Regions from separate parts of the Homo sapiens genome. Here region 1 is linked to region 2. The links come from fine-mapping of genetic effects on gene expression. Tissue or cell type: whole blood. Region 2 holds a variant in brackets; the other region holds the start of a gene. All regions are shown on one strand. Distances are from middle to middle. Region 1 holds the start of PPP1R3G (protein phosphatase 1 regulatory subunit 3G). Region 2 overlaps LYRM4-AS1 (LYRM4 antisense RNA 1).

Region 1 (4,384 bases), 25 kb before region 2:
GACTAAAAGGGCCCAGCTTCTCTGACTGCTAATGGCCCGGCAAGTCTCCTAACAGTGTGCTCTGCCTACACAAAGGGCGCCGGGGCGTGCGTGCCCGGCTCTCGCAGATCACAGCCAGGGCCTGCCCGAGGACTGGCATTTCAATTCACCAAACGTCTTAATTCGGAGGGGGACGGAACACTTTCTACAGAACATTTTAAAGCACATGGGAAGTTTGGGCCCTTTCGCAGTAGAGAGGAAGGAACGAAGGGGAGGAATTTGTAGGCTGTTGTTTAAGGATTGTTAAAGTGCGCACATCATCAGCTGACAAAGATCGGCCGACTGCCAATGCCTCCCCAAACTCACGAAAGCCAAAATTCAGAGTACAGCGTAAAAGGGGGTGCGAGTGGCCTTTACTTTTATAAAGGACATTTGTACACAATGTCGCACAATAAACAACGTCAAGTCTGGGCACACATTACCCACATCTCAGTCAAAAGAAAAGGGTGGCCTGGCCCAGCCCCGAAGGGTTTTCTCTGAGAAATAGGTTGGGGTGTAAAGGTCCCACGCGTGCACCCACAGTCCGTGGCACCTTCCTCTGGTGCACCGTGGCAGGACGCTTTGTTCTTTCCCTAGGGGTCTCCAGCAAACTGCAAGGGCTACAATATGATATTTAGAGTTAAAAACCAATCCCAAGGCCTTAGAACCATGCCCGGGAGTTGGGAGCCTTTTTCTTGGAGGCAGCTGCTCCGGGCCTTGGAAGTTTCTTCCTATTCTGACGCAGGCTGGGAATTCTAGAGGCCTTGTAGGAAGGTCAAACGGACGAGAAGACTGAGGTCAGAGGCTTTCGGAGCATTGCCCGGGCTCTCTAAGCTCGCTCACTTGTCTGCGGGGGTGCGAGTCGACGGTTCAAAGTCTCCCTCCTTTCCCTCCACGCGCCCCTCACGCCAGACTCGCCACGCTCAGCAAAGCGTCCCAGCAAGTTCCTTGAGGCGGCAGCCCGAGCTCCACGTGCTAATCAACCCCGCCCCACGGCTCTTCGAAACTCTCCAGGCTCAGAGCGCGTCCGCAGGGCGCGCGTAGCGCAGCGTGTAGTTGGCGCCCGCGTTGTTGTCCCAGTACTCGCCCTGCGCGCAGCGGTAGCAGACAGCGAAGTGGACCGCGACGCCGCGCTCGTCGGCGTCCTCTTCGTCCTCAGGCTGCAGGCCCGGGGGCAGGCACAGCGAGAAGTGGAAGCACTCGGCGCCTGGCTCTTTCTTGGCATCCCCGGACCCTGGCTCGGAGGCCCCAGACGGTGCCTCTGGCTGCTGTGGCTCCAGCGGCTCGGGCTGCAGCTCAGCCGGCACGTCCAGGAAGGAGCGCCACTCGGTAAAGGTGTAGCGCACGGTCACGGCCCTGGGCCCAGGGCAGCTGAGCACCCGGCCGGAGCCCTTCACCTCAGCGCCCGAGGCCGTCGAGCACTGCACGCGCTCCAGGCACACGCGCTGCCGCTGCAGACGCTCGGCCGCGGCGCTCGGCCCCGGGAGCTGGAAGAGCGGCCGGAGCCGGGAAGGCGGCGCTGAAAGGGGCGCGGCCACTGCCGCCGCGGCCAGCAGCCCCCCGAGCTGCTCCAGGTCCTCGGCACGCATAGGGAAGCTTCGGAGGCGCGAGAGCACGGCGGGCGGCACCTGCGGCTCCTCCGCCTCGCTGAAGTGCTTCACGCTGGCCAGGCTTAGCCCCAGCGTGTCCGCGAACTGCACCCGCTTCTTGCACTTGGCGCAGCAGCCGCCCGGGCCGAGCTGTGCGTCCTCCGCCCCCTCGCCGCCCAGTGCCACCGCCTGTTGCTGCTGCTGCTGCAGGAACTTGGCCGCCTGCAAGATGGGGTCGGCGGGCAAGGAAAAGGAGCGCGCGCGGCAGCGGCGGCGGCATTCCAGCAGCTCCTCCTGCTCCTGGGGGGCGGCCTCTTCCTTCGGGGACAGGGGCCTATCCCCTAGCTGAGCGTCAGGACTCGGGGTCTCCGAAGCGCCACCGCCGTCGCCGCCACCCTGCACACAGGGGACCACCGGGGCGGGCAGCTCCTCGGCCGGCGGGGCCTCTCGGAAGGGCGCTGGTCCCGGCGCCTCCAAACTTAGCCGCGCCCCTATGGGCTCCATGACGCCGTTCGCCCCTGGACTTGCTCGGGCCGAACCGGGCCCCTCTGGAGACTTAACTAACTCCTCGGGCCGTGGAAGGAGCGCAGGGCTGCAGTTCAGGCTCGCCCTCCCCGAGGCGAGTCGCCCCAGGCTCGACAAGACAACGTAGTTCCACTTTGGAGCCTCCGGCTTTTAGCTGCGGCTGCCCAGGGCGAAGTGGGAGGAGGATGCGGGCCTGGGGCCGGCTCCGGGGCCACGCCGCCTCCCGGTTGAACCTGCCCGCGACGGGGGAGGGCCGGGGGCGGGGAGGCGCGGCCGCTGGGACACCTGGAAGCCGTGTTCCCGAGTGCTCCGGTGGAATGCGGGGGGCGACTTTCTGTCGTTCGCGGGCTCCCTGCAGCCCTCACCCGCACCCCCGGCGGGGCTCGCGTCTGTTCCGCTTCTTGAGTGCCTCGAAGTGGGGGTGCAGAGCTCGCGCTCAACCTTCAGAGACCCCCACGTGCACAAAGTCTTCCTGCCCATGAACTTGGCCTGACGGCTCTGCCCCCAGAGGGTCACTGAGCGCTCTCCTCTTGGCTGCCTCACGGGCTGGGGAGTCCCCGGTGCAGCGCGCAACTGGGGAAATCTTGCCTACGCAGAGGCTGGAAGGAGGCCCATTCCGCGCCGCCGGAGAGCGGGGAGCGCATCCCTTCCCTTCTGCTCCTGCTTTCCCCAAACTTCAGGGCGCCCCGGGTTCCAATCCCACTCGGAAGCCTGACTCGGTCAGGCGCGCTCCGCTCTGCTCTTCCGAAAGCCGGGAGGCAGGAGCCGCCGCCCCCATCTGCCCAGTGGCGGCGCGGGGTGGGCTGCGGCCAGACTGGGGCGGGGACCGTGTGGGGACGCGCCGGGGAGCGGCCATGGCCCGCAGCCGAGAGCGGCCGGAGGCCATTCGCGCCAGGCCCGGGAGCACGTCCCGCCCCTCCCCCTGTCCCGCCCGACGCGCCCGCGAGTCCGCGCCCCGGGATCCCGCAGGGAGGGCGGAGAGGGGGCCCCGTGGGGCCGGCGCCCACGCGGCACGCACCACCTCCCACCGCAACCGGACGCCAGCGCCCCAAGCACCCTCCCCGCCCACCGGGAGTGGGGGCGTGGCCCGCGCCGGACTGCGCTGTCACCGCCCTGCTGCTCCGGCCTTGCCAGGGGCCAAGGCCCGAACCTGAGGCCGGGGAGGGGTGGGGAAGCGCGTCGTGGTACCTAGGGATTGGGGGAACGTCTAAAAGTGGTGTTTTTCTTGTTTTGGTTTTAAGGCCACCCTGAGGGCCATCTAAGTCAGTGATTCTACTTCAGCATGCACGGACATCACTCGGGGGCCCGTTGTCACATCACAGGGCCCCACTCCCAGAGTTTCCTTCTTTCTAACTTTTTCGAGATAGGGGTCTTGCTATGCTGCCCAGGTTGGTCTCAAATTCCCGGCCTCAAGCAGTCCTCCCGCCTCAGCCTCTAAGGTAGCTGGGATTACAGGCGCCCCCCACTGCTCCCAGCTCCCTAGCGTTTGTGACTCAGTGGGCTTGGGCTGGGGCCTGGAAGTATTTCTAACAAGGGGATGCTGATGCTGGGCTCTGGGGACCGTATTTAAACCTATGTGGATGTGTATTCAGTTACTTATATAGAAAGTTGGGGATTCTAGAAACAGAACCACTAATTAAGAAACGTAATTAATTGGGGCTTCATAACTAAAACATGTCATGGTTTGGCAGAACTGAAAGGGGCCAGGGTTTTAGCCATGTTGGCAGAGGGCAGGCAAAAGAGATGGTGGGTGAGGAGCGTGTTAAGAGCTTACATTGATTGACTGAGCACCTACAGGATGTCCTGTCCATGAAATAGGAATCACATCATTCCTGCCTACATATAGGACACAACACTGCAGAAAGATTTCTCATCGCCAAGGCCCCACAGGGTGGCTTTCATGGGATTTGAAGCCAGGCAGCTTAGAGGAAACATTTCCCCCATCACTACTAAGCCTGGGCTGGGAGTGATGTCCTGTAAAGGGGGCCCTGCCGGTCCCCTTGCTGGACTCTTGCTGGTCATTTTATGCCCAGTGTGGAATTCCATGACTGTGTCTTGACTTGGGCATGGCATCTCCAAGAGGCCCCAGGCGCACACGGCCTGTCTTCCTGCAGCAACTCTGATTTCGGGAAGGACATTGCTTTTACATTTAAATACACATTGCTACATTATGGAGTTAAATACAAAATTCACAAGCTATTTTAAAGATAAAATAAGACTTCAAAGAGATTTTGAGGTGGTGGCGACCCTTT
Region 2 (4,384 bases):
TCATGGGAAGCTGCTTTGTGAACGAGCAGACCCAGTGGTTCGATAATGGATGCCCACACCACCCTCCACCACGGTCCACTTGACCACAGGATAGTCAGCGGCACATGAGTCCTTCCAAGGGCCCTTGCCAGTGTGACCTCCTCCTTCCCTTCCCCTCCTGGCTTGCGGCAGGCTTTGATTTGCTCCAAATCCAATGGTTGCATTCATCAGAGATCACAGATTCTAAAGTGTGCAGCCTCTCCCATGAGGTTCTAATTCCAGAAGTCACCTGACAGAGCCAGAAATGCATGGACCACTTGCACAGAGAAGTAAATTATGTCCTGAGAGTCGCCTGGATCCTGGGGAGGTGGAAAACTGTCCTCAAACAGGATGTGTTATGTGTTTTCAGTAGAAGAGCCAGCTGGCAGCTCACCTGCAGCTCTGAGCAAGGGAGGCTTCTAATCCTTCCTGCCATGCTGCCTCGGTGATACCATCCCTTTGGCCACATTTGTCTTAGGCCTTTATTAAAAGGGAAGGGTGAATTAAATAAAACAATGATGTGGAAGAAAAATGCAGATAGGTCATGAAATTCAGGGGAAATGATATTATTAAGAAATGAAAATAAGGCCAGACATGGTGGCTCTCAGCACTTTGGGAGGCTGAGGTGGGAGGATCACTTGATGCCAGGAGTTCGAGACCAGCCTGGGCAACACAGTGAACCCTGTCTCTAAACATATATATATATGTTAATATATGTTATAAATATATTAATTAATATGTATTATAAATATTATCAACATATAAATATATAATTAATATATATTAATTAGCTGGGGTGTTGGTGTGCACATGTAGTCCTAGCTACTTGGGAGACTGAAATGGTAGGATCACTTGAGCCTAGGAGTTTGAGGCTGCAGTGAGCTATTATCGCACCACTGCACACTAGCCTGGGCAACAGAGCGAGACCCTATCTCAAAAAAAAAAAAAAAAAAAAAGAAGAAGGAAGGGGAAGAAGAAATAAAGAAATGAAAATAATAGTATTTTAAGCCAGGAGAATAGAAGGAAGAAAATGGCAAAGTATCAGTATTAAACACCCCGCTATTGTGGAGGTGGTACGAAAGTACCAGAGTTAATTATAAAAAAGTTGAGCAATGCACACATATAAAAGACCTCCATTGCTAGAGAATTACAAAGGTGATAACATTCTCAATTATGGCATAAATATTCCATCTCTGGGTCTTGCGTCTTATTCATGGTGTTCATTTCTTCCAGTGCTTTGTAATTCATTGTGTGTGAACTGATTTTTGTGAGTTTTCTATGGGACTCCCGTGAGCTCTGGGTGGCTGCGGAATAGAACAGTACAAGACTTCCTGTTGCCAGAGTCTCTGGGGATTTCAATGGTCATGGATCGGTTTTGTGTTCGTTTTTCAGGTTTTAGTTCTTGCACCATGCAGGTAGTTAGATTCAGATCCCAACCCCATAGCCCCTAGCCACCTTCAGCGTTTGCTATTGAACACACATTTGATCTGCGTAAGCCTGGTAAGTGAAAAGCTTGGGAGGCAACTAATATTTCTGCATTTCTCTCATTATTTATGACATAGATAGGATTAACCTTTTTTATTTTACAATTGTTCACTATCTTGTATAAAATAAGGGCAAAATGCAATAAGATATTCAAACAATTGTGAAATCATCGTTTTGCTATTGTGAAACAAA[G/A]GTGGCAGTTCAGCCAAAACTGAACTATTGACTGACAGGCAGGCCTCTGCACGTGGTGTGACAGTTTGTGCATGAAAATAGACAACTTCTAGTAAATCAGGTTTGGGTTAAAAGAGACAAAAATCTAAAGCTGATAAATAAATTAAAATCAGAAAAATAGAAGAAATGAAGGATTAAAAATTAAACACTAAGAAGTTAAAAGTAAAATAATCCCTCACCAAAAAATACAATTAATTAACTGTCTTTTTAATTAATTAAGTGACCTGCATGGCCAGCCTCCTGTGTGAAGGACCTGAGAGGACTATAAACTGTTTCTGAGCCTCTCCTGTGTCCCCTCTTGAGGCTGCACCTGACTGGCTGTCCCCTAAATTTAAGAACACAGAACAGTATAGGATAAAGGTGGCATTCAAAATTGGTCGAGAAAATATGAATTATTTAATAAATACCACTGGTATAACTAGTTGGCTATGGGGTGGGCAGAATCTCTCTGAATTCTAATTCTCAAAATAAATTCCAGATAAATTGAAAAATATAGCTGGGCACGGTGGCTCACGCCTGTAATCCTAGCACTTTGGGAGGCTGACGCAGGTGGATCATCTGAGGTCAGGAGTTCGAGACCAGCCTGGGCAACACAGTGAAACTCCGTGTCTACTAAAAATACAAAAATTACCCAGGTGTGATGGCGCATGCCTGTAATCCCAGCTACTCAGGAGGCTGAGACATAAGAATAACTTGAACCCGAGAGGCAGACGTGTGAGCTGATTTTTGTGAGTTTTCTATGGGAGTGCTATGGAGATGGTACCACTGCATTCCAACCTGGGTGACACAGTGAGACTTTGTCTCAAAAAAAAAAAAATACAAAAATCGAAACTCAAGGGGACTATAAGAAAGTGTAGGCAACTAAAAAAAACCTTCACTGGGCAAGACCTGACTTAAGCAAGAAACAAAACCAAAAGGCCTACATGAATGTACCTGCAAAGCATAAACAGTAATGTACCTGCTTAAAAATCCAACATTTTTTCATGGCAAAAATTATAACAAACAAATCCAAAAGACAATCAACACACAGAGATCAATATTCCCACCATCTTTGAAAAAAAGGCTCACTCTTTGGAGGGCAATAAAATAATATCTATCAATGTTTTAAAAGAAATAGTTTTGACCTAAGAACTCTGCTTCTAGAACTTGATCCCACACTTTCGTGTGTACATATGTATTTCACTGAAGCACTGTTAGTAACAGGAAAAGACCAGAAACAATGTACATGCTCATTAAAGAGGGGACAAGTTCAATATATTATGGGACATCCAGATTTCATGTTGGAGGGGCCAAAGGAAAACTTCCCCTTTGCCTTCTGAATGCTGGCTGAAAATCAACTGACAAAAGATAGATTAAAGCCAGGTGTCATGTCTCATGCCTATAGTCCCAGCTACTCAAAAGACTGAGGCGGGAGGATCACTTGAGCCCAGGAGTTCAAGGCTGCAATGAGCTATGCTTACACCACTCTACTCCAGCCTGGGCAACAGAGCAAGACCCCTGTCTCTTAAAAAAAAAAAAAAGGCAGATTAACAGGAGAAGAGTCATATAAATTTATTAGCATGTGATTCTCCCACCATGCAATGGGGTACAGATGGTTAAATACCCTTCTTTTTAGGGAAAGGGAGATGAGGAAATGTGGATGATGTTAGGTGGTAGGAAAGGATTTTTAGGATGATTCAATGAACTTGAAGAGCATACAATGGCCTGGGGACAAAGTCTGATGGGGCCGCAGAGCAGGCATGTCCAGGTGTGTTGACAGACCACAGTCCTCTTCCTGCGACAAGAATTCAGTTAATGGAAACTCAGGGAAGGGAGTCGAGTAGCTGTTCTTGGGCGGATATGAAACAATCCCCAAGATACAGAGTTAAGAAAAAATCAGAGAGGCCCAGAACTGTGTGAATACCAAGTTTTTATTAGTGCAATAAAAGGGGAGGAGTGTGCTTCTTATGTACACAGAGGACTTTTTTTTTTTTTTTTTTTTGAGACAGGGCGCTGCTCTGTTGCACGGGCCGGAATGCTGTGCCACCGTCATAGCTCACTGTGGCTTTGAACTTCTGGCCTCAAGGGATCCTCCCACCTCAGCCTCCCGGGTAGCTAAGACTACATGTGTGTGCCACCACACCTGGTTAATTTTTTAATTTTCTGTACAGACTGGGTCTCTCAATATTGCCCATGCTAGTCTTGAACTCCGGGGCTCAAGGGATCCTCCGGCCTCAGCCTCCCAAAGTGCTAGGATTACAGACATGAGCCACCATGCCTGGCCATATAGAGGACTTCTAAAAGGAAACACAAGAAGCCAGTAGCAGTGTCACCTCTGGAGACAGAGATTAGGAGAGCAGAGGTCTTGCTTGCTTTTCATTGTGTATGCTTTTCATCTCTTTCCATTTTCGTCATGTGCTTTTATTACTTTTTCAATTAAAAGCAGTTAATGATAAATCAGGGAAAACAAGTTGGAAGCAAGACATTTTTACCTTAAAGGAATATAAAGAACATTAAACTAGAAAGAGAAAATGGAAAACAAAGCAGCAAGCATTCAAGCATTATATATATATAAAAATAGTGGGGAGACACAGGGCTGTAAAACCGAATCAAGCATGGCTAAAACAGGAAAAATAACAGGGGAATAAAGAAGGCAGAAGGCAAAACATAG

The links.
Region 1: it holds the start of PPP1R3G, and the variant in region 2 is fine-mapped to the expression of PPP1R3G in whole blood (INTERVAL, PIP above 0.99). The same link has a PIP of 0.9 or more in T cells, blood mononuclear cells and monocytes.

The regions. Positions count from the first base shown.
Region 1 is chr6:5,083,213-5,087,596 of GRCh38, reverse strand. It overlaps PPP1R3G (protein phosphatase 1 regulatory subunit 3G), which reads right to left and starts at 2,256. Exons shown (of 1, transcript NM_001145115.3): 1 at 1-2,256. The coding sequence starts at 2,111. The coding sequence ends at 1,035. The region is part of intron 3 of LYRM4-AS1 (LYRM4 antisense RNA 1); the gene reads right to left. It also overlaps a transcript of LYRM4 not described here. RefSeq lists silencers at 1,505-1,734, 1,765-1,814, 1,955-2,054, 2,305-2,484, 2,895-3,174 and 1 more and an enhancer at 1,285-1,974.
Region 2 is chr6:5,058,672-5,063,055 of GRCh38, reverse strand. All of the region lies in intron 2 of LYRM4-AS1 (LYRM4 antisense RNA 1), which reads right to left. It also overlaps a transcript of LYRM4 not described here. Among named protein-coding and RNA genes, the nearest start is that of PPP1R3G, 24 kb to the left of the region's middle. The variant G/A (reference allele first, on the strand shown) is at 1,696.